7 separate regions of the Homo sapiens genome follow, and regions 2, 3, 4, 5, 6 and 7 are each linked to region 1. The links come from fine-mapping of genetic effects on gene expression. A gene starts in region 1. Each other region holds a variant in brackets. All regions are shown on one strand. Distances are between the middles of the regions.

What was found.
Region 2: its variant is fine-mapped to the expression of EIF4E3 in whole blood (TOPMed, PIP 0.98).
Region 3: its variant is fine-mapped to the expression of EIF4E3 in prefrontal cortex (BrainSeq, PIP 0.95).
Region 4: its variant is fine-mapped to the expression of EIF4E3 in whole blood (TOPMed, PIP above 0.99).
Region 5: its variant is fine-mapped to the expression of EIF4E3 in whole blood (TOPMed, PIP above 0.99).
Region 6: its variant is fine-mapped to the expression of EIF4E3 in whole blood (TOPMed, PIP above 0.99).
Region 7: its variant is fine-mapped to the expression of EIF4E3 in whole blood (TOPMed, PIP above 0.99).

What each region holds. Positions count from the first base shown.
Region 1 is chr3:71,723,098-71,727,164 of GRCh38, reverse strand. It overlaps EIF4E3 (eukaryotic translation initiation factor 4E family member 3), which reads left to right and starts at 1,763. Exons shown (of 7, transcript NM_001134651.2): 1 at 1,763-1,973. The coding sequence starts at 1,798. RefSeq lists silencers at 2,039-2,108, 2,239-2,358.
Region 2 is chr3:71,681,394-71,685,460 of GRCh38, reverse strand. EIF4E3 (eukaryotic translation initiation factor 4E family member 3) reads left to right here. Exons shown (of 7, transcript NM_001134651.2): 7 at 733-4,067. The coding sequence ends at 779. Among named protein-coding and RNA genes, the nearest start is that of EIF4E3, 42 kb to the left of the region's middle. The variant T/C (reference allele first, on the strand shown) is at 1,932.
Region 3 is chr3:71,775,876-71,779,942 of GRCh38, reverse strand. All of the region lies in intron 2 of PROK2 (prokineticin 2), which reads left to right. Among named protein-coding and RNA genes, the nearest start is that of PROK2, 7.2 kb to the left of the region's middle. The variant C/T (reference allele first, on the strand shown) is at 2,378.
Region 4 is chr3:71,809,454-71,813,520 of GRCh38, reverse strand. No RefSeq gene overlaps it. Among named protein-coding and RNA genes, the nearest start is that of PROK2, 26 kb to the right of the region's middle. The variant T/C (reference allele first, on the strand shown) is at 2,314.
Region 5 is chr3:71,754,121-71,758,187 of GRCh38, reverse strand. GPR27 (G protein-coupled receptor 27) reads right to left here. Exons shown (of 1, transcript NM_018971.3): 1 at 1,692-4,067. The coding sequence ends at 3,011. It also overlaps a transcript of EIF4E3 not described here. Among named protein-coding and RNA genes, the nearest start is that of GPR27, 2.3 kb to the right of the region's middle. The variant T/C (reference allele first, on the strand shown) is at 2,095.
Region 6 is chr3:71,803,618-71,807,684 of GRCh38, reverse strand. No RefSeq gene overlaps it. Among named protein-coding and RNA genes, the nearest start is that of PROK2, 21 kb to the right of the region's middle. The variant G/A (reference allele first, on the strand shown) is at 2,249.
Region 7 is chr3:71,786,827-71,790,893 of GRCh38, reverse strand. No RefSeq gene overlaps it. Among named protein-coding and RNA genes, the nearest start is that of PROK2, 3.7 kb to the right of the region's middle. The variant C/G (reference allele first, on the strand shown) is at 2,163.

The DNA of each region.
Region 1 (4,067 bases):
GTTGTGGACTTGTTAGTGTTCTGTGTAGAGAGGTAGGAGAGTCTGGCAGTTGAAAGTCTAGACTCTGGAGTCTGAATACCTATGTTCAAATCCCAGCTGTCCCACTTACTAGCTCTGTGACCTTGGGGTTATCTTAATCTTATCTCTGTTCCTCATCTGTAAAATGGGTTAATAGTATCTTCCTCATTGGCTTATTGTAAGGATTAAATGAGTTATTACGGGTAAAGTGCTCAGAGCAGTTTAAACAATGCCATATACCACGCTTCTTGGAAAAATGAAAGGAGATATTAAGCAACAAGATAAATGCATCTAACCAAAAGCACCCTCCCCTGTTTTAGTGTTGGACAGATTTTATAAAATCTGTCATTGCTTCCAGCATTGTATGTTGTATAGAAGTTAAGTTTAAAGCAGCGGTCTTGTTTTTATTATTGTCACTTTATGTGACCTTGATTACCTTTTAGGGAGGGCATCTACTCTGGGATTCATGACAGTCTGCTATGATGCTGTTGATGCCCCTGAACTCATCTTGTTTTGTAGCTCTTCCATCCCAGCGAATGCTCAAGGCATGAACAGAACACATGCTAGGCCAGGTAGAAGGTCAATGAGGAGATGGCATCCCACGCCCTTCACTGTTCAAAGCCAGAGAGGAACTATCTAGAAATTCAAGTGTAAAGAGGATGTCCATGCTGGTTGTGACATGTGTGTTCACAGGCCTCATGCCTTTGCTTTTCTTTTGAAAAAGAAAGTGACAGAGACCTGGGGAGATGCTGTGTTAGGAGGGCCCCTCCTACTTTGGGCTCAGGAATCTCACCGCCTAAGGGACTTCCTGGGTGCTCAGAGGTACAGGAAGCAGAGCGCTCTGTGTTCACAGGTGCCCGCTTTCCTCCTCCCGACTCGCCGGTGCTTTAGGGCAGATCTGGATACTTTGGCTGATTTTGGGAAATGTTCTCTGAAGTTAGCCACACGTTAAGCCAGGCTTGAGGCCTTCACTGTGGTCACATGGTAGCTCCAGAGGTTGGGATGGGGGCTCTGGCCCCTTCAAATCAGCGGAGTTAGGAAGTATGCTCTCACCAAGAGGAATGCAAAGCCCACCTGCTCCAACCTCATGCCCCAGTCGGTGGTTCTCTTGTTCGTTCTTCTTTCTCGCCCTTTGTTCTGTACTCGCGGGCACTGGAGTCTCTTTATCCATTTGGCCATCGGTTCCCCTCTCCATTTATCTGTCACACCCAACTGTGCTTCCATCTGCCCTCCATCCCTCCTTCTCTCCTCCAGCCATCTGCCAGCCTTCACTCCATCCTTCTGACTGCTGGTATGTCTGTCCATCCCTCCTTCCCTCGCACCACGTGGGTCTGGGGCTCCATCCCCTGTCCCATCCATCCCTCCATCTGTCCCTAGCCTGCCGCTCCATCCCGCTGCCCTTTTGCATGGCTGCAGAGCCAGCCCGCAGACCGTTCCCCGGTCCCTCTCACCCCCGTGGGCCCTCTAGCCCGTCCCCGGCCGCCACTCCAGGCCAGGCCGTCAGTCTCCCACGCTGGGCCCGCGCCTGAGCGGGATCGGCCCCCCATCCCTCCGTGGGTCTGTCTTTGTTCGGCGGCCCCGGCCCGGCCGTGCCTCCCACGGCCCCTCCGCGCGGCTCCCAGGCCCTGAAGGCGGCGGGCGGCGGGCGGCGGGCGGCGGGCGGCTAGCCCGGGGCGGGGCGGGGCGCGCGGGGCGGGGCGGGGCGGGGGCCGGGGGTGACTCAGCCGCGCTCGCCCCGCGGTCCGCGCGTCCGCCGGCCTTGCAGGCGGGGCGGAGAAAATGGCGCTGCCCCCGGCCGCCGCGCCCCCCGCCGGGGCCCGGGAGCCGCCGGGGTCCCGCGCCGCCGCCGCTGCCGCCGCCCCCGAGCCGCCGCTCGGCCTGCAGCAGCTGTCGGCGCTGCAGCCTGAGCCGGGCGGGGTCCCGCTGCACTCGTCCTGGACCTTCTGGCTCGACAGGTGAGGGGGCGCGGGGCCCGCCGCGCACGGCCCCGACCCGGGTCCTGCCGCCACCGCCGCTTTGTCTCGGCGCGGCCCCTCGCCCCGGCCCCGCTCCGCTGTGGCACAGACCTCGGCCCCTCCGCGCGTCCGCCTGCGCACCCCGGGACTCGCCCCGCCGGGTCGGAAGCCAGCTTCGGGCCGCGCCGGGCGGCTGTTCGGCGTCCTCGCCTCCGGGCCGGGGGAGGACAGCGCAGCCCGAAAAGTTTCGGCAACACTTTCTACCCCTTGTTCCCTTCCGATCGGAACGCGGCGTGCTGGCAGGGCCGTGGGAGAGGGTAGGCGAGCTGGGGGTGGCCGCGTCCCTGCTGCAGGGAGAGGGCTGTCCTGCTTACCCCGCGGGGCGCCTGGGAGCTCAGGACACGACCTCAGCTGTGACAGCGCTCGGAAAAGTTGCCCATCCCTTGGGAGGTGTGCGGTGGTGCAATGATTATTGCACGGCGGGCGCTCCCACCCCGTGTCCGGCCGCTGCTGCCGTGGACTCCTCTTCCAGTTCTTCCTCATCCACTGGGCAGGTATTTCCTGAACACCTACAGTGGAGCCACACACCTGCTATGCGCTGGAGATTCAATAATGAGCAGCAGCTGACCTTGTCAGGAAGGGGGTGAATTATGGCTTTCTCAAGGGACAACCCAGGTGCCATCTTTTCAGAAAGACCCCCTGACTACCGTATCTAAAATAGAAACCTTGCTCCCTCGTTTTGTATTCTCCTGCCCTGCCTTCTTTTTCTTCCTAATGCTTAATGCAGCTGGATTTTATTATATATGAATTTGTTTACTTTCAGTCTGTCTCCCCAGCTCCTCAACACCTCCCCTCAGTTAAGGATAAAAGAGCAGTGGATTTTTGTTTTTGGACATTTTGGACCTAGAACTGTGCCTGGTCCCTAGTAAGAACACCAGAAATTGTTATGAATGAATAGATGGATGAATGCAAAGCCCCTTCTTAGTGTCTGCCCTGCAGTGGGTGCCCAATGATGACACCTCAAGGTTGTCCCAAGAGCATTTGGAAATTTTGATGAAACCGTGTCTATTCTGGCTAAGTGTTAGGAAGAAATGTGTGACAGTGTTCTGAGAAGTTTGCTTGGTACACACAAATCTGGTTTTAAAAGGCTTTGCATAAAATGACTGCAAGATTTTGTTTTAAAAAAGTGATATTCATTTTTTTTTTGGTTAAGACAAGCTCATTTCTTTTTTCCTTTTGGGTTCTTATAGCACCCGTCTATAAGAATTGTCACTTGCTGCCATTTTCTTTGCCGGAGACCCAAAAAAGTTGGGGGTGGGGGAGATGGAGTGAGTTTCGTTCTTTCAAAACATTTTCACTTTCATTATGGGATGCTAAGAGAGCATTATACTGTCATAACAAGCGTGCTTTTGGCAGACCTTAGCAGAATGAAATCGTGTCTGTTTTCATAGGTGTGCTGCAACTGTGCTATTGTTACCTGGTATCTGTTTTCAAGGTGTTAAACCTGGACCTGTGGTCTAAATTGTGAATACTGCTGACTGGTGGAAACAGTATCAAGAGAGTTTCTTTTTAAACAGGTCTAAAATTAGTTTACATGTAGGAACAACACTTTTAAGGACTGGTCTAAAATGTCAATACTACAGATAACACAATCTTTTAAGACTAGTAGCTTAAGATTATAGTAACTTTAATGAAGACAAAAACTATATCTATACTATTGATTTACACATTTTTGTTCTCTAAAGGTCGATCATCAAATGAAATACATTATTGCCACAGTGTCCAGATCTTTAATAGAAATGGCTGTATTAATTTAGAAATTATAATGAGTTCCAATATTGTACATATGAATTCATTTTGCCCGATCAAACAACTCATAATTTTTATTGAACTTTTTCTCCTTCTGTGGGAATCCATTACCTTTATATAGGGTGCCCCTCTCCCCCTTGAGGTTATGAACACATTATGATCTAGAAGTTCATTAGTAACTTTTCTCCCCAGGTAAACAACATTCTAGAGACTGGTGAGGTTCTCAGGAGAGCCCTCCAAGGCAGCCTTACCTGCAGCATAGCCAATGTCTGCCTGGCAAGATGA
Region 2 (4,067 bases), 42 kb after region 1:
AACCTGGGAGGCAGAGGAGGTTGCAGTGAGCCAAGATTGCGCCACTGCACTCCAGCCTGGGCTACAGAGCAAAACTACGTCTCAAAAAAATATATATATATTCTAGAGTTCCTAATTAAAATTAGTAATTTTGCAAGCCAGATGATAGGTCTGAATATCTATTGGCAGGGGGAAACTTGATTTGGAAAAATAAAACTTAGCAATTTTATGAAACTTCATTTCCCATGGAGAGTGTTGAGAGGTAGGGAGCAGGGGCACCTAGATATAATTGCTGTCACCCTGGTGTGGTTCTTTGTTTTGTTTTATTTTTAGTTTATTTTTAAAGATAGGCTTGTAAGCGGCTCTGTCTTGGGTTGTGTCAGGCACCCCCTCTCCCCACCCCCTGCAATGCATTTTGTGGGGCACATTTTCCCCTGCGGCATTTGCTTGCAGCCCAACATACTCTCTTCATCGGCTTGCTGAGATGACTCATCCTCCCAGGCACAGCAAGAAGAAACAGGCAGCATGCCCATTGCTTGTTTATTCCTTGTTTTAATTTTCATTATTACGTTTCTCAGGAAATGCACGCCTTAGCTAACAGTTACTGGCAAAAAAATAAATAAATAAATAAGGTGTTTGAGTTCTTGCCAACATTTGGGGAAGCTGAATGAGATGCCTAGAGGAGGGTTGGCCCATCCTTTGCTTAAAGTTTTCTTTCCTTTTTTTCTTTTTTGTTTTTTTTCTGTCCTTTAGCCCATGAAGAGCATCATGCTTTTGAAGGTGGACGTGGAAAACACTAATTGCACTCTGTAAAGAATTCTTTGTCCTTTGCTGATTGGTTTTGGAAACGGTCTTAACAGGAGGGAGAGTGAAGAGAAGACTTGCCGAAGCCGATGCTGGTCAATTTAGAGTGGGTTTCTGTCCTTGCAGATGGGCAATTAGGACTCAAAGTGGCAGGTGGGGTGGGGGGAGATTGTGTGGGTTTCTACCGTCACATTACTTGCTTTTTAAAAAAAACACACACAAAAAACTTTTTTTTTGGCTTTCTAAATTCTCTGTTCTTTTCACTCTGATTTTTTTTTTTTTTTGCCGTTTAAAATTCCTTATTCAGCCTAATTATTGTTTTCTACACTCCCCTTTCATTGAGGCACAAGAAATGGGTTTCCCTTTAAGTAGCTCTGCTGTACCTAGTTAATGAGAATATGCATAATCGTGACAATACTGCTTTTGAATACCACACTGTACAAGGAGGAACACTAGCTTGGAGAAATCTGTCTTCTGATTATTTGTTGTGACACATTCCTATGTACTGTGAGCTGGGCATTGTTTTTTTCTGTCCCAGGGAAAAGAAAAACCATACTTAATGTGATTTTGCACTGACAGCACACAAATCTTTAATTTTCCTTTTTAAAACATTTTTTTTTAGTGATAAAAGGAAAATAATAGTTGGATTGCATAACATGAAAACTATAATCACAATTCAGTATCAGGATATAAATCAAGCTCTAAGTCTTTGGACCCTCTGTGGAAACATTTCTAACCCGAATTTTAATTTGGCCTTTTCAACCAAAGGCTTAGAGTGGTAGCAAGGGATTTCTTCCAATAGGAAACCTGATGTTTCTGATTTAAAGAGAAGGTGATATTTTAATTGTTTGAATTAAGCTCCTTGCAAAGTTCGGGTGTGTTTACCCACTTAGGGCTTTCTTTCCCAGTCAACGCTAACACATTTTGTTAAATGATCCCTTTCCCTGCTCACATTGTGTGTCATTTCTCATCATCAGTAGTCCTCCAGCCTGGGCAGCTGTCCCCACCCTTTTTCATGTAGGTGCAGGAAGTTAAATCTCATTTCCAGGATGCATGTGAACATTTACAAAGTTGAACTTTGAGTGCATTCTGCTCATATGAATTATTGGGATTGTTGATATATATTGTATTATGCTACCAAAGAAATA[T/C]TGGTTTTATTAGAAGGAAATGGTCATCCTCTGGACCATGGAGACTAGCTCAGAATACGCTGATTTCCCTCTCCTGACTTTGCCAAGCCTTTGGCTGCTTTTGCCTGATAAAGGGCAGGGCCATCTGAAGACACTTCCCCCAGTCGGCTTTGGAGTCACGGGAGCTAGTGCCTGCTCACACATTTTTCAAAAGGGCAGTGCACTCAGAACTTCACTGTACCTGGGATTTTTAATTCCTCTTGCAGTGTTGACCAGCAGAGAGACTTGAGGCTACTTTAAGCCTCCACTATGTGTTTGTAGATAAAATTCTCCATTCAAACATTTTAAAGGACTTTGAACATTATCTGCTTATGGAAGTTGTGCCCTTCACTTGGTTAGTAACCACCTCAGCCATAATACTTACCATCATAGGTTTCTTAAAATGCTTTTTTTTTTTCCCTAAACTTGAGTTTCCTTAGTGATTTCAAAATGAAGTATAAGAATATCAGATCCAGTTAGCAAAAGCCTAGGACTTGTTTCTCCAAACATTGTACTAACATTCAACTTGTTTTAAAATTATGACTCAAGAATTTTAAAAAATTATTCTGGACATGAATTAAAACTTTTTTATAATATAAGTATTTTTCTGATTGAAAAAAGGATATAATTGACTTCACTCTAATTGTCATGTATATTTCCATAAGTAAATGGATTTTGAAGTATTTTTATTTTTTGAACTTTATTTAAAGCATTTGTGATGACATGTTCAACTTTTGCATGTATGTAGCCTTTGAAGTAAAAATAAATAGGAATGTTAGGCTCACGTTAATATTTCTAGTTTCTGTTTATGATCATGGAACATGACTAGCACACAAAGTAGATTTTTGCCCCAGTGAACTTCTGCAACTGTTTCTGACCCTTTAGAAAATACCAACTGTGAGAAGGATTTAATTTGCCTAATGTTAAAAACCTATCATCTAAATTACTTTCAGAGAGGATTTTGTCAGATTTTGGTTTGGAAATTGTTTTAATTGAATATTTAATCATAATAGACTTTGTATGAACTAAGCTGATTTAATCAGTTTAAAAACCTCTCATTACCTTCTTAGATTAAAGAAGCTAATACTGTTTTGAGATAGAAGGAAATATTTTGTGGGGCATGTGACTTTTGTGTTAAGGCAGTTTACCCATCTTGGCTGATGTGGGGAAAGTGCAAACTTCCAGTAGAATCCCGGTCTTTTCATCCAAGTGCTTGCAGGGGCAGCCTTGTAGTCTGCAAAGAACCATGCAGAAACCAAAGAGCTTGCTTTTTTGTCTTTGTAATTCCTTAGGGTCTGTGATATATGCCAGGAAATCTGATTGAAACTAATATGCTTTTTATTCTCCCATTATTCCCTAAATTGTTATATCACAGGCACTTGCCTACATTGGGAAAGTAAGGACAAATAATACCCATTTAAAGTAACTTGCCTATATTTTGACTGTCTTTCGTAAGCACTTGCTGAACTGCTGACTTAACTCAGTTTTAAGATTTCCTCTTTCCCCCCAACTTTTCCACATTTCTTAAATGAGGGTGTAATTTACTGCAAACATGTACATTTAATATAATATTGCTGTTAGATTCGTGGTACACTTTATGAAGCAAAAACATGAAAAGGAAACCACAACTCTAATAAACTTTAAATTAAAGATTAAGATGACTCTTTCTCACCCCTCTTCTTGAGTTTAGCCCATGTCTACACCATGCACACAGTCACAAGACTTTATAGCTTAGAAACTTTAGGTATAATTGGGTCCTATAGACATAATATACAATCCACCAACTGAGCCTTGGCCGAACTTGTCCCTTGTTAAAGACGTAGGGCTAGCCAGCCACAGAGCTGGGTATTGAAGTCGGCAAGTTGTATCCCGGTGCAGGCGTCCTTAAATGGAGAGTACTCAGAATCTGCCAGCCTTAACCTGCCCACTAGCCACCCTAATCAAGCATTAAATATCTGATCCAATCTGGCCACTGGTGTAACTCCGTAATCAGACATCCTGTTTGTAAACAGCTCCTCCTTCTCTCCCTCTCCCTCTCAGAGACAGAAGTGGTGCTGGGGTTTGGAGTTTGAAAATAACCTTCCTATGACAGGAAGTGGGCTTTTGCTATTAGTTGCC
Region 3 (4,067 bases), 53 kb before region 1:
CTTAACTTTCTCCTTTAAGAATTACGTTGTTTTTGGCTGGGCATAGTGGCTCACACTGTAATCCCAGCAATTTGGGAGTCTGAGGCAGGCAGTTTGCTTGAGCCCAGGAATTTGAGACCAGCCTGGGCAACATAGTGAGACCCCGTCTCTATAGAAAAATTTTTAAAAATTAGCTGGGCATGGTGGCACACACCTGTAGTCCTAATTACCAGGAAGGCTGAGGTGGGGGAGGGGATCAGTAGAATCCAGGAGTTTCAGGCTGCAGTGAGCGTGATCTTGCCACTATACTCCAGCCTGGGTGACAGAGCAAGACTCTGTCTGGAAAAAGAAAAATTGTGTTGTTTTCATGCAGTATTAGTACAGCTTCACATGCCCTAGATGCTAGAATCACATAGCCTGTTTACTGAAACAAGGGAAAAGTGACATATCCCATGGAACTATGTTTGTGTTAATAACAATCATAATTGCACCTTGTTAAATACTGTGATGTACCAGATCCTCTATATTAAATGTTGTATATGTACTTCTTACTTAATACAGCAAGCCTGTATACAACATTAAGCCCCAGAGGGGTTCAGCAACACAGGCTGTGAGTAAACAAGAGACACTCAACTTCATTCTTTGTGACACTCTGTTGTTTATGTGGTCTTAATCATTACACGCTTCTGCCTCCGCGAAAGCAGTCGTTGGGTTTAATTTGAACACTTTGTAGTCCAATTAACCAAAACTGGTTTGTTTGGATAACAGAGACAAAATGATCACTGGAATGAGTGATAACAGTTCAGAATGGGAATTTGTGTCGTCCGATAGTTTTGATGAGTGTTCCAATCCTCTGCAATATTTAAAAGAGAACCGAATTCTATTTCCCTAGTTCCTAGATAACTTCAATTTCAGGTTTAGTCCAAGATTAATTTTGAAAGTAAACAAATGCAGTCTTCTTGCATAAGCCTGGCTACATCTCTTTGGTTCTGTTTTTATCATGGATCCAATAATGAAATCTTTAAATAATAGAGTATGGTTTTCAGATGTTCACTTGAAATGTATTTCTGGAATTTTATTTTCTAACTTTTCATATTGGTTGCTTTTTTATCTTCAAATACATTTTCAAAGGTTATTTTGATGACCTATTTTAAGAGAAGATCCTAGAGTTGTACTTGTTCCAGATGAAATTTACCTATTGTAGAAAAAGATCTAGTTTCTTCCAGAATATCTCTCAGCTGTATGGTCTGTTCAAAACAACTCAAGAAAAAAGTCTTTCCTCAATACATACTGATGAACATTATGTACAGTATTCAATTATGCTCTGAAGTTTAATGACTCATTAGTAGATAGTAAAAATGTAGACCCTATATAGAATTTTTTTTTTCATTTTGTTTCAGCTTAGTCATTAGCCACCGAAAATCCGTTTATTTGGGTCAAGTGAACAGTATTTGATGACTGAAACTGAGAACCATAGATAGGAGTTTATAGCTACCGAGTTCAGTTTGCTGTTTTATTTAACATGTACCAATTAACTTGTACAGTTTACAGTCCCTGACAGGCTATTGTTTTATAATTGTATAGTTTTGAACTTTATGTTTGATAATTTTAAGATAGAATAAAATATGTGAGATATATGAGTTCACCTAGGAAGCATAGTATGCATATTTTCTAAATACATTTTAAAGCAAATAATAGTTTTAACAGGTATTCATTTTTCTCAAATTTTTTATTTTATTTTATTTTATTTTATTTATTTATTTTTTTGAGACAGAGTCTCGCTTTGTCACCCAGGCTGGAGTGCAGTGGTGTGATCTCGGCTCACTGCAAGCTCCGCCTCCCGGGTTCACGCCATTCTCCTGCCTCAGCCTCTCAAGTAGCTGGGACTACAGGCGCCCACAACCACGCCCGGCTAATGTTTTTGGTATTTTTCGTAGAGACGGGGTTTCACCTTGTTAGCCAGGATGGTCTTGATCTCCTGACCTCGTGATCTGCCTGCCTCGGCCTCCCAAAGTGTTGGGATTACAGGCACATTTTTCACAATTTTTTAACACTTAAGAATGACTTAACTGAATCATGCCTTTAGAAGAAACTTTCTGTTTAAAAAAAAAAAAAGACAAAACAACAAGGTTTCTATTAATGCCGGTAACTTTCCAAAGTTTACATAGAAGATTAGCCATTTCCTTCCCATTTTGACTAATGTTTAGCTTTGAAAGCTTTGAACACTTTTTAGTATTCAATAATTATGTGATTAATACTTTAATCTTTATTGCTTATTGTATTCTGAATTTTTTCAGTTTAAACAACTATGTTTCCTTCAAACAATCTTGTTTTTAAATTTTCCTGCGCTTTTTATGTGAACATTTTTAGCACCAGGTTTTTTTAAAAACTTCACTTT[C/T]CTTCCTTTTCTGAAGGAAAAAAATTCAAATAAAAACCTGGTACTTGTTTTATTTTTTTAACTTGATATTTAAAAAATTATTAGTGGTTTCTACTTTAGAACCAACCTATGAGGAAACATTGTAAACATAATTTCAGAATATGAAGTCATTAAAATTTTTACATATTTTTTAAAGTAAAAAAATTTTAAAATACTAAAATATAACTAATGCAACTAGAAATTTAGCAAAAGATGGGGAAGAAAGCATAATATGCTGATTTTCTCATCTTTCCTATCACAATGTCAAGAGCTACTGTCTATGATTATTTCTTGGGATAGCATCATAGCAGTGTTTATAGGTTCAGTTCAGCAAAAAGACTTACAAGACAGAAATAGGCTTTAGTCTAATACAGGTTTCTCAACTTTGGTACTATATGCGCTTTGCCCAGTTTCTCCCAATGGTGACATCTTGCAAAACTATAGTACAATATTCCAAGCAGGATATTGACGTTGATACAGTTAAGACACAAAACATTTCCATCACTATAAGGATCCCTCATGTTGCCCTTTTATAAGTGCTAATTTCTCTTTAAAAGTGCTGCAAAAGAGTAAAAGTCATGCTTTCTCAAAGTGCTGGATGTTCTGCCTCGGTAACTTCTAGAATTTGCTGTTTGGAATTCTAGGCTATTGGAAACTTTGCATTAAGTGTTGGTTGATTCTAAAGTAAACCATGAAGTTTGGACTAAGTGGTTCCAGTGTGCATCTTCTGTAAGCACTTTCTCTTGCATTTGTGATTATGAGACGCCTGTTAGCTTTGTCACACAGTATCTGTAGATCTAGAAGTGAGTGGGCCAGTCAAGAAACGGACAAGCATCTACCGAGTGTATAATATCAGAAATCATGGTTTTTGGCCAGGCACAGTGACTCACGTCTGTAATCCCAACACTTTGGGAGGCCAAGATGGGCAGATCACTCGAGGCCAGGAGTTCAAGACCAGCCTGGGCAACATGGCAAAACCCTGTCTCGACTAAAAATACAAAAATTAGCTGGGCATGGTGGCACATGCCTGTAGTCCCAGCTACGTGGAAGGCTGAGGTGGGAGCATCACTTGAACCTGGGAGGCTGAGGCTACAGTGAGCTGAGATCATGCCATTGCACTCCAGTCTGGGCACAACAACAGAGCAAGACTCTGTCTCAAAAAAAAAAAAAAAAAAAAAAAAAATGAAAAGCGAAAAGAAAAAAAGAAAAGAAGAGAGAAAAGAAAGAGAAAAGGAATCATGGTTTTTGTCGTTAGGAGCTCACAGAACTGAGTGAACTGGGTTTGAATGAGAAAAAAGCACCTAAGTATTAAGGACCCTGCAGTTCAGTGTAATCATTATGTTAGGGTCAGTCAAGGCAGATCCAGATTGATGTTCATACAGTCTTGGTGTCCTTGATTTAAAGAAATAATACAAAGATTTTTTTTAAGTTTCACAAAAACAGATGACCTTGTGAACACACTACCAGGGTCCCTCCTAGGTCCTGGATTAGAGGCCTATACATGAGAGGGGCTTCGGCCTCTTGGGCTTCATGGTGAGTCCATCTCTGAGTTTGGTGGTGTGAGTTACGTTTTGCCTGCTCGGAGCTGGGCAGGGCAGTGAGGGGAGCCTTGGGATCTGAGTTGGTCATCTTCTGCCCTTCGGGGAGTTCCTAGACTCTGTGGGGCATTGCA
Region 4 (4,067 bases), 86 kb before region 1:
GGGGTATGGATCAACCAGGCAATTGGCTGCTGAGCTGGCTGTGGTTACATAGATAACACTGGATTTTGTCAGGAGAGCAAATACTCTCTAAAAATTTTCTCATTATGCAGAAGTCATTGACTCTATAAGTACTTACTCTTTCCTAATAGTGAAACTGCCATCGTCTGGTAGATTGTATTATTTATTCAAAAATTATTTCTTTTTTATTGTACATAGATTGTATTATTATTCAAAAATAAATAATTTTTGAATAATTATTTTTGAATAAATTTTGAATAAATAATTTTTGAATAAATAATTTATTTTTGAATAATGATACAATCTACCAGATGATGGCAGTTTCACTGTGAATCGATTATCCCTGTGAATCGATTATCATTTCCTGCCCCATGACTGCAAGTCAGGCCCAGACCTGGGACTTGAGGAAATGCTAGTGAAAACGATTGCTGTTACTTATCAACAGAGGCCTTAAGGGCCATCATCCTCTTTCCTTGCTGCTCTTCTCCCTCTGCTGTGATAGAAGCAATATTAATATCTGAGGTAAATATCCATATGATTTCAGTTAGTGATATTATTTGGTATGTTTTCTGTCCCTGCCCCTCCACCCTGCCATCTTTTGTTCCTGTTTTTCCTCCCCTGCCTTCTTTGTGGTTATGTTGTAGAAACTCTTGATTCTGTTACATTCTTACAAAGAATGTTGATGGTTTTGTTTTAGCAGGCAATTAACTTAGACAGGCTCAAACTAGGAGTTCTCTCTTGTGTATGGAGGGCCGCAGCTCAGATCTCAATTCTGTTCTCTAAGCCTGACCTACAAGCTGCTTTGAGTCTGCCCCATGCGCAGATCATTCAGGTGTCAGGAATTGGGGCAATATTTATGCACAGAAGGCTTTTGAGGCTCCTCTGCCCTGGCTCTCATCTCTGGGATTCTCTCGTCACTTTCCAGCAGCAGCGGTTGCCCCAGAACCTTTGGTTCTTCAGGCCAAAAAGAGCAGATGTTCTCGTGGGTTTTGCCCATCCATGCTGTCTGCAGCCCAATCTCAGACTGAAGTCATGAAAATGGGAAACTCACCCTCTGATAATCCCTCTTCCCTGTTTTGACTCCCTCCCAAAATCTGCCTGGTTTTGCTCGCTCTCCAGAGTATTTTGTTTGGAGTTCAGAGCTGTTGCCTGCGAACAGGCCAGGCTCTTAGAAATCTACTCTGTCATACTGAGGTGAAATTCTAAAGCCAGTTCAGGCATATAATAAGAACTAAAAATAAACTTCTGTGGTTGAAAGCCATTAAGACTTGGGGTTATATTTGTTTCTGCAGCCTAACTTACCCAAAACTGGAATGTTGCTTCTTAACCATTTCACATCTATATTTGTGAAACTTATTCAAGGACAAATGAATTTCCCTGAACGTTTCTGATGCTGTGAATTTTGCTTTTCTCCTTCCACTGTTAAGATACTTTAAGTGGTACCCTTTCCATCTTAACTTCCACTGAAATCATGAAGAAGACTGTCCCTTAACTTTTTAAGAAGATGTTCCATGTTCCATGTTTGCACACTCCATCCTTATCACTGAAACCACAGGGTTTAGAGATCAGGATTCACCATCATCTAAATTGAATACACATCTAGCATACTGTGCTACTGACAGAATTGGTCTTGGTAAATTATGAAACATTTTATTTAAAATATATGATTAATTGACTTCTGCTAAAGCATGGTAACATAAAAAACCTGTAAAGAAGGGGTAAAAACAAATTAGACAAAGGAAAGCATTTTTCTTGGAATTGTCATTTCAATGTCCACTTCCTTAGAAATGATTCCATAAAAAGCATGCCTCTCTTCATATAATATAACCAAGCAGGTCTCTGGCATAGATGTTAAGTATTATGATATTGCCTTTAATAAAATGCAAGATTCTAAATATGCAACCTTCAAAATTAGTGTAAAAACTCTACTTCTCTTAGTTGATTAAAATCATGAAAAAAAATACACACATACACATTTATATTTATATATTTTTCCCTAAGTTGATTACTTTCCAGTCTAGCATCTAATTGGTAACAAAAATCTCTTTATAAAAGTCAAAATCTTTATACAGAAATCTCTTTATAAAAGTCTACAGGGGAGTTGTAGATTAGAAAAGCCTTTTTGAAATTCATGACAATCTTTTAGTATTATCAATTTCCACTTAAATTACCAGAAGATCTGGGAGGCTGAAAACAAGAGATGTCCTACAGTCATCTTCACAGCTTCCTCTTTTTCATTTGAACATTTATCTATAATTATTTTGTAAATAGCCTGTACATATATAGCTCAAATTA[T/C]GATTTCTTTTTTAATTTATGTATTTTCATCAGATTCTCTCTATCATTTATTCAACCAACATTTTGGCCACTTTGGGCCAAGCACTGCGGCTGCAGGAGTGAACAAGACAAAGCTGCAGCCTTCATGCTTCTCTTCCTTTTTTTTTTTTTTTTTTTAAGATGGAGTCTTGCTCTGTTGCCAGGCCAGAGTGCAGTGGTGCGATCTCGGCTCACTGCAACCTCCGCCTCCCAGGTTCAAGCGATTCTCCTGCCTCAGCCTCCTGGATAGCTGAGACTACAGGCCCGCACCACTACGCCCAGCTAATTTTTGTATTTTTAGTAGAGACAAGGTTTCACCATTTTGGCCAGGATGGTCTTGATCTCTTGGCCTTGTGATCCACCTACCTCAGCCTCCCAAAGTGCTGGGATTGGTTCTTCCTTCTATAGGAGAGGCAGACAGCAACCAGTGGCACAAATACAATCACTTCAAGTTGTCAAATACGCTATGCAGAAATGTAAAGCAGGATAAGGGGTTAAAACCTACTGGAATGCTTACTTGCTCTATAATTTATTTACCTTTGTATCATTCTGAATTACAGTAACTGCTTTGAATTATAAGTAATCCCTACATAAAAGATTAATGGTTTATCTACATTTTGCTTCCACTCACCCCAAATTCCACCACGCTACTGATGCTGCCCTTCCTGAGGAAACCAAAGACCTCCTCATGTCTAAGTTCATTGAACATCTCTCACGCTTTTCCTAAGTTGACTCCTTTGCACATCTCTCACTGTTGCTCACTCACCAAAATATTGCTCCTGCCCTGGGGTCACCTCTGGCCGTGCTTTCTCTGCATCTTCTGGAATCTTCCCTTCATCTGGTAGTGTACTAATTATGCATTCACACTGAGGAGCCCAGGAGGGCTGGGTCCTCTACCCTTTTCTCTTCTTTTTAAAATATTCGCCTTCAGGCATCTTATGCATCCCTCATGCCTGCTGCATTACCCACATATACTCCAGTGACTCAAAAACTGTCTCCAGCTGAGGCATTGCTCCCAAACTCCAGACTAGTGCCACCAACTGCCTTAGGACACTTCTCCTTGGATGTGCCTTGGGCTTCTGACATTCAATTAGTTCAACACTGAGCTCAGCATCCCACTTAGTCTCCACGCACCCCACTCAACCATTCCCCATCACAGAAAGTGGCACCACCATCTACTCCTCAGCTGCCTAAGCCAGAAAGCAGGTGCCATCCTCTCCCTCACGCTTCTCATCTTCTTAATTACAAAATACAGTGAAACTGACTTCCTTAATATTGCTTAGATCTATCCACCTGGCTTCATCCTCATTCTTACTCCCTTAGACCAGGCCACAGGGTGACAGACACACTTTCAGATTTGCTAATTTCAATCCATCTCCACCCTGCAGCCAGGATGAACCGTCTGAGCTCTTCATCTGATTGGGGCTGTCCTAGGCTTGATGTTCTTTATAGCTTCTCTCAGGGAAAAAGACTATCGGACATTAACCTATGTACCATTGCAGATTCTTTCAATTTCTTCATTTCTGAAGAAGCTCAGCTTGGCCATGGATGAACATCCCAAGCTGCCTGGGGCCCAAGTTGAAGCCGTGGGCCGGTTGAGTCTACACACCAACCTCTGCTTTGAGTCATCCCTCCACTTCCAGAATGGGATGAAATGTCGCATGATGGAGCATGACATCTGGCTTCCTGGGCAGCCTCCAAGCACCAGATGCTGCAACCCAGAAGTGTGGGGAAAT
Region 5 (4,067 bases), 31 kb before region 1:
AGAGTACTGTGGACACAACTAACCTTTTTTTTTTTTTTATAATTTTTGATTAATGTAATTAACTATCAAAGTACATGTTAATAGATTCACCAATCCTAAAAGCTGTTGGGGTGGCCCTTTGCACCTCCCCACTTTCTGCTACATAGCTTGTTTCTCTGGCTCTTTTGGTTCTCGTTTCCTTTAGTTGGCTGTTATTTCTTGCTACTCTCACCTGCACACTCACTAGAAATCTTGCCTTCCCCCATCTAATCAGAACTTTAAAACATAAAAATAAAAAACCCAGGTAGCCAAGTTTGAACGCATCATGTCTGAAGTAAATCATGTCTGAACGAAGTCCTGGAGGTCTGTCTCCAACCACCTGAGGAACCTGTTGAAATGCTTTTCCCCAGGACCCAACTCAACATGTCCTCATAAGACTCTGGATCACACAGACACTTAATTTGTATGAATGTTAGAATTTGAGAACCTCTGGCTTATGAATTCTCATATGACAAAATATCCCTTGAATTCAAGGCTATGTCAGGCCAACACGTCACCTCTGGTGCAGCTGAGCTGCTGCCCAAAGCTGGAGTGGCTCAGGAGTCAGCCATGATGGGCTGGTTCCTGTGCCATGCCAGGTGGGAAAATCACAGAGACTTGGTGATCTCTGTTTTGGGGGCTTTTTTGAGACAGGGTCTCGAGAGCTCTGTCATCCAGGCTACAGTGCCATGGCACAGTCATGGCTCACTGCAGCCTTGACCTCATGGGCTTAAGCCATCCTCTCACCTCAGCCTCCCCAGTAGCTGTGACCACAGGTGCACATTACCACACCCAGCTAATTTTTTGATTTTTTGTAGAGACATGGTCTCGCTATGTTGCTTAGGCTGGCCTCAAACTCCTGGTCTCAAGCAATTCTCCTGCCTCGGCCTCCCAAAGTTCTGGGGTTACAGGCATGAGCCATCGTAGACTGGTTCGACCTCTATTTGGAACTGAGATCACTTGGGCAGGTGGAGGGTTAGATGAGGAGAGAGGTACTTCTGGGCTCCTCTATCTTGGGGTTGGCTGAGGTTTCCGATCAGTGGCCCTTGGATGATTGAGGCCAACCTGGATTCATGATGTGGGGAGAAATAGGGTAACTGTCTCATATTTTCCAAGTGTGAGACTGTCTTCACAGACTGATTAACTTCCACAACAAAATAAAATCATGCAGCCTATTTACCAGAGATCAATTAAATTGGCCACACTCTTTTTATAACTTATTCCCATTGGACTGAACATTTAATAGTTTATATTATACTCAGCTAAATTTCAATATAATCTACCACCCCCACTTTTACCTAGTACTTTTATCAAAATGATCGCTTGTACTTGAGTTTGATATGTTTACTTAAAAGCTTTTTTATGTCATTTAACGAATAGTCATTGAAATGTTGTCATCCAAATAAAAAAACAGTTTTAAAGCCGTATATATGTCTACTGCTTCTTCCCTTTAAAGAAAAGTTTCGCAGATTTTATCTTGCATTTTAAATTAAGCCTCCACTTTTCTTGGATATGCTGATGGTCAAACTATGAAACCTGTAACTGAAGAACACGTGCTAAAAGGATCATAGAGCATGTTATCCTTACATAACATACTTAGAGGCATGTAACATACTTCGACGCATGTATTATTACAGCCTCAAACACCACCACCACCACAACAAAACAACCACTCCAGAATGAAAATACTGGTATATTTGTATAATGCAAAGAGAAATACAGATATAAATCCTCAAAACGGAAGGTACATTAATAAAAATGTAGCATTATAAGCCAAAAATATTATATAGTACTTGCAGAATTTAGTCTTTCAGTTTAACATTATAATGTCTAACAAAGAAATATTATTTAAATTATAGTTCTCATTATTAATTTAAAACAACCATCAGTAGAACAGCACAGCTTAACCTAGCAAACATTTTAAGGAAATGCTTTGTTTCCTAGAAGGAGGATATCATTATATTCCATTCATTTATACCATAAACAACAGAAGAACAATTTTCAAAGTGGAAATTAGTTTCATAAGACAGAATAAAACTGGGCTTCTCAAAGCACAAGCCATTTCCATAAAATTAA[T/C]TTTTTATTGGCAAAAAATACTTAAAACAATTTTGATGTAGTACTCTGCTTCTCAGAGCCCTCCCAATCCTCGAACCACAATCTATACACACGAACACATGCAATACTGTATTTTTCTCCACATCATTACTAACCAAAACACTTTACTCTTTTAAAACTTACAACTTGACAGAAATGTTTCCATTCAAGATTGCTATAATACAGAGAGCAGTTGTCACTGACGTGGTTTTTAGCAGCAGAAAGTAAACCGGGAACCAAATCTTACTTGTTACTTACTGCTTTAAAAAAATGACTGCCTTGCTACTGATCTCCATCTCTGCTCTTTAAGTTCAATATCAACACTGAGACTTTCAAAGAACCAGCGCAGCACAAGGACCCTGCAGCCGGCAATTCAGAGGGCATTTCGGACAACTTCCCCCCACCCCCCACTTTCTCCTGCTTCCAACAGAAGATCCTCAAGAAATCTAACTTGTGAAGAAGTCCCCCTAGGTTCCTCTACTTCACTGCAAAATGTAATGCCACTTGAGGTTGTCAAAAATAGCTTCTGTAGAAAACTGGCCATGGTCTTTAGGAAACGTTGCATGAAGAAAATTAGTACAGCCTTTATAGAAAAAGAAAAAAAGGAACCACACATGGAATAAAAGACGTCAGTACCGCTACAAAAAGACTGCAGGGCCTATTGTCAGGAAGAAAGTCGAGTTAGGAGGACGAATGTGCGGAGCTGGAGTGGGCTGAGCATCCTACTCCTCACCCACCCCACCCCCAAAGGAGTCAGTACAATCCAAGTGTCTGTCCACTTCGAGTCATTTTGAAGGCAGCTTAGAAAATTAAACAGGGGCCAGAAGGAAAAGATACAACGTCACCGTCCGAGCCAAAGGGAAAGGCTGGGTTGGGGGTCTATGTGGCGGGGCCTCCCTCATAAACCAATGCCTTTCAGGTCGCAGGGATGGGTCGCCTGGGTGGTCCGGGGGCTCTGGCAGCAGGGGAACTGGGCCCTGAAGCAGTCCCTCAGCTCCCTGTTGAAGAGGAAGCACACGACGGGGTTGATGCCGGCCTGCGCGAAGGTCAGCCACACGGAGGCCGTCAGGTAGGCCTGGGGGACGGCGCCGGGCCGCACCAGGACCCGCAGGTAGCTGGCCACGACGTAGGGCCCCCAGAGGAGCAGGAAGAGCAGCGTGACGGCGTAGAACATCTTGCACAGCCTCTTCTCCGTCTTGAATTCTTCCAGCACGAGGAGGCGGCGCGCGCCGCGGCCCGGCCCTGCGGGCCGGATGCCCACAAGCGCGGGCGGCGTGGGCCCGCGGCCGAAGCCCGCCGTCCAGTTGGCGGCCGCCTGGCCGGTGGCGCCCGGGCCGTGGAAGGTCCAGTCGTGGCTGACGGCGGGCACCAGGCGCGCGGGCCGCATCTTGCGGCGGTCGTGGATGAAGAAGAGCAGGCGGAGGTAGACGAGGTGCGTGGCGCCCACCACCACGGCCAGCAGCAGCAGGAAGCCCAGCGCGCCGGGGGCGCCGTCGGGCCGCTGCTCCAGGGCGCACGGCGCGTCCTCGTCGTCGCCACCGCCGTCCAGCACTGGCGGGAAGGCCGCGGCCAGCGCCAGCGCCCAGGCGGCGCACACCAGCATGGCGGCGCACGGCCAGCCGGCCAGGCGCTCTGCATAGAAGCGGTGGTGCGCGATGGCCAGGTAGCGGGTGACGCCCACGCCCAGCAGCAGGAAGGCGGCGTGGAAGCAGAAGAGCGCGGCCAGGAAGGCGAGCAGCTTGCAGCCCAGCGCGCCCGGCGGCGCCCCCGCCGCGGCCGCCGCACGCCGCGCCGCCAGCATGACGGCCGGGAGGCAGGCGAGCGCGCGCAGCCCGTCGGCCAGGCACAGGTCGAGCAGCAGGTAGTACGGGGCGCGGTGCAGGCTGCGCTCCCGCACGATCAGCAGCGCGAACAGCACGTTGCCCGCTAGGCTCACGCACAGCAGCAGGCTGAGC
Region 6 (4,067 bases), 81 kb before region 1:
GGCTCAAGCCTATAATCACAGTACTTTGGGAGACCGAGGCAGGTGGGTGGCTTCAATTCAGGAGTTGGAGACCAGCCTAGGCAACATAGTGAAATCCTATCTGTTAAAAAAGTACAAAAATTAGCCAGGTGTAGTGGCGCATGCCTGTAGTCCCAGCTACATGAGGGGCTGAGACAGGAGGCTTATTTCAGCCTGGGAGGTTGAGGCTTCAGTGAGCCCTCTTGCTGCCACTACACTCTAGCCTAGGCAACAAAATGAGACCCTGTCTTAATAATAATAATAATAATAATAATAATAATAATAATAATAATAATAATGAAATGGCTGGGCTCAGTGGCTCATGCCTATAATCCCAGCACTTTTGGAGGCCGAGGAGGGAGGGTTGCTTGAGGCCAGGAGTTTGAGACCAGCATGGGCAACATGGTGAAACCCCATCTCTATAAAACACTTCAAAAATTAGCCAGACGTGGTGGCACACGTCTGTAGTCCCAGCTACTCAGGAGGCTAAGGTGGGAGGATCACTTGATCCTGGGAGGTCAAGGCTGCAGTGAGCCCAGATCACACGACTGCACTCCAGCCTGGGCAACAGAGCAAGACCTTGTCTCAAAAATAAATAAATAAAAAATAAGACAGTAAGGAAATGTATTATCTTACCTAACTGGAAGGAGTGGCACCATCAGTAGCTGAAAGATGTCGTCAGATAACTGACTCTCTCCGTCTTTCTCATGATGTTGTAAGCCTCATTTCCAAGTGCCTCATAATAACAAGACAGTTGTCAGTGGCAACTGGAGCTACATACTTCTTTGTTCTCAACTACCTGGTCAAAAATGGAAAAACCACATCTCCAAGTGTGTAATATAAATGTTTCCTTCATTTTGATTGAACCAGTCCTAGTCACAGGACCAATGAGTCATGCAGGCAGGTGATGGGGGAATGGCACATGCCAATAGCCTCCTTAAGATTCACTCCTGGCCTGGCGCGGTGGCTCACGCCTGTAATCTCAGCACTTTGGGAGGCCGAGGTGGGCAGATCACGAGGTCAGGACATCGAGACCATCCTGGCCAACATGGTGAAACCCCGTCTCACTAAAAATACAAAAAATTAGCCGGGCATGGTGGTGGGTGCCTATAGTCCCAGCTACTTGGGAGGCTGAGGCAGGAGAATTGCTTGAACCGGGGAGGCAGAGGTTGCAGTGAGCCGAGATTGTGCCGCTGCACTCCAGCCTGGCGACAGAGTGAAACTCTGTCTCAAAAAAAAAAAAAAAGATTTACTTCTAGAGTCTCGGGTCACATTCTTCTAAGCTATACTTGGTCAGAATCGGAGTTGTGTTAGGAAGAAAGACACAAGTGAATGGATGCGGGGCAATCAGTGTTCACCAATGTACTATTGCTCTCAGAAAATATGGAGATGCCTCTTTTTTCATATTTTAAAAAACTTCTCAATTTTTAATTTTTTTTAAGTTTTAAATTTTTGGAAATAATTGTTTTGTTTTGTTAGTTTTTAGAAAAAGGATCTCACTCTGTTGCCCAGGCAAGAGTGCTGTGGCATGATGACAGCTTACTGCAGTCTCCGACTTCTGGGCTCAAACAGTCCTTCCGCCTCAGCTTCACAAAGTGCTGGGATTACAGGCATGAGAGAGGATGAATTCTAACACATTACATTGTGGTTAGAAACTATGTTACCAGATATAAGAAATAAAATAAAATTACATCTTCATATGTATATTTTATATATTTATAGCTAGCATTTATTGAGTGATTGCTTTGTGCCAGATCTGGCTTTGTGCCAGATAGTCACTCAGATACTATTAAGTGATTGCTTTGTGCCAGATACTACCCATCATTTCCATCAGCCTTCACAAATACCCTTATTTATTTCCTCAGAAAATACTTATGAAGCCCCTACCATACTTCAGGCACTGTCTTGTCACTGGGAATATAGCAACAGCAGGAAAAGACCAAGACCCAGTCCCTCATGGAAACTACATTCGAGAAATAGGAAACTGTGGCTGAGAGGGATTGAGTGAATTGCCCAAAGTTACACAGCTTGAATGTAGCAGAGTCGAGATTTGAACTTCAGAAGTCTAATCTAACTCCAAAGTCAAGAATGGGTGTATTAGTCTGTTCTTGCACTACTATAAAGAAATACCTGAGACTGGGTAATTTATAAAGAAAAGAGGTTTAATTGGTTCATGATTCCTCAGGCTTTACAGGAAGCATACTGGCTTCTGCTTTTGGGGTGGCCTCAG[G/A]AAATGTACAATCATGGCAGAATGTGAAGGGGAAGCAGGCACATGTTACATGGCCACCCCAGGAGGAAGAGAGAAATGGGGGAGGTGCCACACAGCTTTAAACAACCAGATCTTGTGAGAACTCACTCGCTATACTGTACCAAGGGGGGATGGTACTAAACCATTCATGAGAAACCCGCCCTCATGATCCAATCACCTCCCGCAAGTCCCACCTCCAGCATTGGGGGTTGTAATAATTCCAGTTCTCAGCCAATGGCAGGCTTCCTTCTTTCAAGCCTTGACTTTTCAGGGGAGAGCTCTCTGGGGCCTGGAGGAGGCATTGCTCTAGGGGTCAGGCACCATGCCCCACAGTGGCATCACTGCTTGAGAGCACCCAGAACAATGAAAGGCAGCCTGTGAGCCAGGGGAGGGTCCACTCAAACCAAGGGTGTATGGAGCAAACTGCGTAAGCATTGAGGCCCCAGGAGAGATTTGCACAGGAGATGCAGGTGCCCAGTATGATCAATCCCTCTCCCCAGACCTCCAGCCATCATTTGCAATAACCGAAGTTAACATTACCTGATGCTTTGCTTCTGGGGAACCAGTGTGCACAACCTCCTTAAAAAAAATAAGGGTTTGGCTGGGCTTGGTGGCTCACACCCATAATCCCAGCACTTTGGGAGGCCAAGGCAGGTGAATCACCTGAGGTAAGGAGTTCGAGACCAGCCTGGCCAACATGGCAAAACCTCATCTCTACAAAAAATACAAAAATCAGCCAGGTGTGGTGCTGCACACCTGTAATCCCAGCTACTCGGGAGGCTGAGGCAGGAGAATTGCTTGAAACTGGGAGATGGAGGTTGCAGTGAGCCGAGATTATGCCAATGCACTCTAGCCTGGGCAACAAGAGTGAAACTGCGTCTCCAAAAAAAAAAAAAAGAAAAGAAAAGAAAAAAAGGAAAAAAAACGGTTTGTGGCATGTAGTGGGGCGAGACTTTCAGATTTCTGAGCAGGAACCTAAGCTGATAGAAGAATTGTACACACTAAAAATGCCTGGTCCCTGTCATATTGTAGTGATCTGTGACCTTAAATTTAAGTATTCAACTTTCACCAGGTTATTTTGAATTTGAGTTCTGCTAGATAGAATCAAACCTATGTAAGGCTGGGCACGGCAGCTCGCGCCTGTAAATCCCAGCACTTTGGGAGGCCAAGACAGGTGGATCATTGAGGTCAGGAGTTTGAGACGAGGCTGACCAACATGGTGAAACCCTGTCTCTACTAAAAATATTAAAAAATTAGCCAGGCATGGTGGTGCACGCCTGTAATCCCAGCTACTCAGGAGACTGAGGTAGGAGAATTGCTTGAACCCAGGAGATGGAGATTGTAATGAGCCAAGATCACTCCACTGCACCCCAGCCTGGGCGTCAGGGGGAGACTCTGTCTTATAAAAAAATAAAAAGAATCAAACCTATGTTACTAATTGTTACTGAATCATCTGAATTTGACTGGCTTCAAAAGTGTCTTTCCAACAGGACTGTTTGTTTAATTGGGTTTAATATTATGCATTTTTCAACCAGTCTTGAAGAAGTTTTCAAACTCCCACTATGTGTCAGGTGCTATGCTAGGCACTGGGTGAATTAAAAAGGCATAGTCTGGTCCCCGGAAGCAGACTCAGAGATAAAGATTTTTGTGAAAATGATTTATGAAGGCAGGGTCTCCTGGGAACACTGGGCAAAGTAAGAGTAGGGGAACACGGCAAAGCAAGAGGAAGAAGCCCACCAGAGTGGCGATCTCAAACCAAAGGCCAGACTCCACCTGATCCTGCAGGGAGCTCTGGAGAGTC
Region 7 (4,067 bases), 64 kb before region 1:
TATCAAGTGCCTACTATGTGCCAGGCATCTTTCTAGGTACTGGAGATAAATTAGTGAACAGAACAAAGTTTCTGAACATCCCTTATCCTGTGGCGCTTAGATTCTGGTGTATGTGTGGGGAGGTGGGGGCAGTAAGGCAACAAAGATAAAACGTAATATGTAATAGAATATGCTAGAAGGTCTTAGTGCTAGGGAAAAGTGAAATATAAAAGGACTAAAAGGCAACTGGCATGCTGGGGCAGTTGCAAATGTAAATAAGGGTGGTTAGGATAGGCCTCCTTGCAAAGGTGAGATTTGAACAAACATTCGAAAGTGACAAGGGAGTCTGCCATGTGGCTATTTGGGGAAAGAGCAGTCTGACAAGGAGAAGATCCAGGACAAATTTCCCAAAGTGGGAGCATGCCCTGAGTGTTCTAGAAACCTCCAGGGGGGCAGTGTGGCAGGAGCAGAGCTGGCAGGAAGACAAGAGGTAGGAGTAGTAAACAAAGTCAAAGATCTGAAGGTCTCTGCGAGAGAAACGAGAAACTACTGCAGGGTTTAGAGCAAAGAGTCTAACTTACTTTAAAAAAAAATAGGTGTTGATGATAGAATGTAGAGGGCAAGGGTGAACCCGGGAGGCCAGTCTTGAGGCAATGACAGTGACAGTAATCCAGGCTGGAGGTGACAGGGGCTCAGAACAAGAAGGGTAGCATGACAGAGGGTTTATTATTAAAATATATTCTGTTTTATTTTATTTTGTATTTATTTATATATAAAATATTACATTATCACAAATATAATTATATTATAATAAATAATAATATAATATAATATAATATAATATAATAATATAAAGTAGATTTGCCTTCAAAAGGCAACAAGATTTTCAGACAGATGGGTCTTAGGTGTGAGAGAATGAGAAGGGTCAAAGATGACTCCAGGGTCATCTTTGGAAGGATAGAGTTGCCTTCAGTGAAAGGGGTTTGGGGGTTGCCAGAAGGTGTTGGGATGTGGACAGGTTGAGTCACACTGCAGGGAGGTCTTCCTTATGAAAGCTGCTCATGTCACACTTGCCCCATTCTTATGATTTTTCTCCTTCCCCGACCAACCATGAAGACCAAGATCTTTAGTGTGGCCTACATAAGACCCTGCAAAGGATCCCTGCCATCCCTCTGGCTCCGTATTTGTTCCAGACTTCGCTTTAGGCACATTCCTTGGGCCACATTAGCTACCCTTTTGTCTGCACTGTCTGGAATGCCCAGCCATCCTCCATGTCTGCTGTTTTATTCTTTTTTTTTTTTTTTTTTTTTTTTTTTTTTTTAAGACAGGGTCTCGCCATCACCCAGGCTGGAGTGCAGTGGTACAATAACAGCTCACTGAAGCCTTGACCTCCCAGGCTCAAGTGATCCTCCCACCTTGATTCTTCAGGTAGCTGGGATTACAGTCGCCCGTCACCACTCCCGGCTAATTTTTTAAATTTTTTTGTAGAGACAGGGTCTCCCTGTTTTGTCCAGGCTGGTCTGGAACTCTTGGGTTCAAGCGATCCTCCTCTCTCGGCGTTCCAAAGTGTTGGGATTACAGGCATGAGCCACTGCACCCAGCCCTGTTTCATTCTTCACCTCAGTTAAATTCTGCATAACCTTCAGCTCTCATCCCATATTCCAGAACTGTAAGGAAAGCTTCAGGTTTCCTCATATGCTCTCTCATAGTGACCCTAAATTTATCTTCTGTAATTATAAAGTTGTATGATTATTTGATTCATGTGCATCTTCCCATGAGATGGTAAGCTCCCAGGGGGCTGGGTTCATGTCTGTTTTGCTCACCCTCGTACCCCCAATGCTGCACACAATATCTGGAATATAGTAAGTCTTAGTTAATACCTGTTGAATGAATAAATTATGGTTTTCTACCCACCTAAAAGAAAATATTAGCTTACACATTTACTCACTTTCAGAGTCTTTGTATAATTCTGGTATAAAGAATGCTGTACTAGAAAAAATACAAAGGAAATTACACATTATTATTTATAATAGCAATTACTAATATAATTCAAAGTTCATTATGCTCATTAAGGAGTCCAAGCCATGAATGATTCATTTCCTGTAGAATATAGCACTGCTCACCTGATACCTTGTTGTCTTCAGAAACCAGTGACAGACTTGCACTGTCTGTCCCCTTGAAGA[C/G]AGATTGTCATGTGGCTTGTTTTGGTCACTAAAAAGTGAGCAAAAGTGACAGGCATGAATTCCAGGCAGAGAAAGCTGGTGTACAACCCTCTGGCTGCACCCAACTATGTTAGTTTCCTGTGTCTGCCATAATGAAATCACCACAACTGGGTGGCTTAAAACAATAGAAACTTATTCTTTCGTGGTTCTGGAGGCTAAAAGTCCAAAACCAAGGGGCTGACAAGGCCGTGCTCCCTGTGAAGGATCTGGGGAAGAATCCTTCCTTGCTCTTTCAGATCCTGATGGCTGCTGGCAATCCTTGGTGTTCCTTGCCTTGTAGAAGCATTGCTCCAATCTCTGCCCCCATCTTCACTTGATGTTCTCCCGTGTGTGTGGGGGGGGTGGGGTGGGGGGAGTCTAGCCTGTGTCTCTGTATCCAGCTCTCCCTCCCATTTCTCTTATGAAGACACCAGCCATTGAATTTAGAACCCACCCTAATATAGCATGACCTCATCTTAAGTTGATTACGTCTGCAAAAACCCTATTTCCAAATAAGGTCACGTCCACAGGTACCAGGGCTTAGGCCTTGAAAATAACTTGCTAGGGGTCACAGTATAGGCCACTACACTGGCAATCATGAAGCACATGTTGAAATGGAGCCTTATCAGTCAGCCTGAGTCCCAAATTGACTGCCGTGAGACAGGCCTGTGTCTCCCAGCTCACTTCATTTCAGTCACGTGGCCCCCAAGTAAAGAGACAGGCTGAATCATCTGCACCAGGTAAAGCTTCCATCTCTCTTGCTTTTTGGTGACTACCTTTAACGGATTCATATACATGACATGAGTCTGTACTGTATATGATCTTCTCGTAACTGTCTCTGGACTGTCCTTCATGGGACATATTCCTGTTGCTGGTCACTTACTGAATGCCTGCCATATGCCTATTATCGTGCTGTGTGCCAAGAGGGATGCATAGAAAATTAGACACAAGGATCCTAATCATGAAAAGTGTACAATCTAATATAGTGGGCAGGACAGAAAAGACTTATATCAGCATTGGCTGAAATTGTCAGGGGAGACCAAATAATAAGGCTTAATAAGAGGTAACCCTAACAGAGCTCCCAGTCTGTTCCAGGCACTGTGATAAGCATTTTGCAGGTATTATTAAATTCCATAGGGGTTGTACCCCATGAGGTTGGTATTTTATAACCATTTTACAAGACCGGAAACAGAGGCTTCAAAAGGTTGTGTAACTTGCCCAGTGGTCACACAGGATTCCAATCCTGATCAGCCTGTCTCACAAACATTGGGTTCTATAGACGCTCCTAGATTGCATTTTCGTTTAAGCTGAGCCTTGATGGTCTGCTGGAATATGGTAGGCTACACTTTACACACACAAGGCTCATTTCACCTAATACAGTTATGCCTGGGCAGAAGTGATCATGTGGCAATATCAACAGGTTACAGTAATAGAAAAGAATCAATAAACTACTGTTTCATTTCTATGTCATTGTTGCTAAGTTGTCCCAACTACCTTTTTTAATGGACTAATCCAAACTCTTTTTTTTTTTCATTTTTCCCTTTATAACAATTGAAGTCAGACTTCATTTTTCAAACTTGGCCTCAGATACAAAGATGACATATCAAGAGCCTTCATTTCTCTCCTAAAGCATTAAAGCAATTAAAATTTCCAAAAGAACATGAAACTAAACAACCCTATTTTTAAGTGTTTCCAAACTTATTTCTTTTTTTTAAACTTGTTTCAAAACAGCCTTATGAGGACTGTTTTCCAAACAGCTGTGTAAGAAGCCAGCCACTTTTGAAATCTGATTTTTCCTGTGTAGACATATCATATTTTCTATGCTTGAAGAAGCAGGGAATACCCAAGCTGGCATTCAATAGTAGCGAATATGAAATAGACCATTAA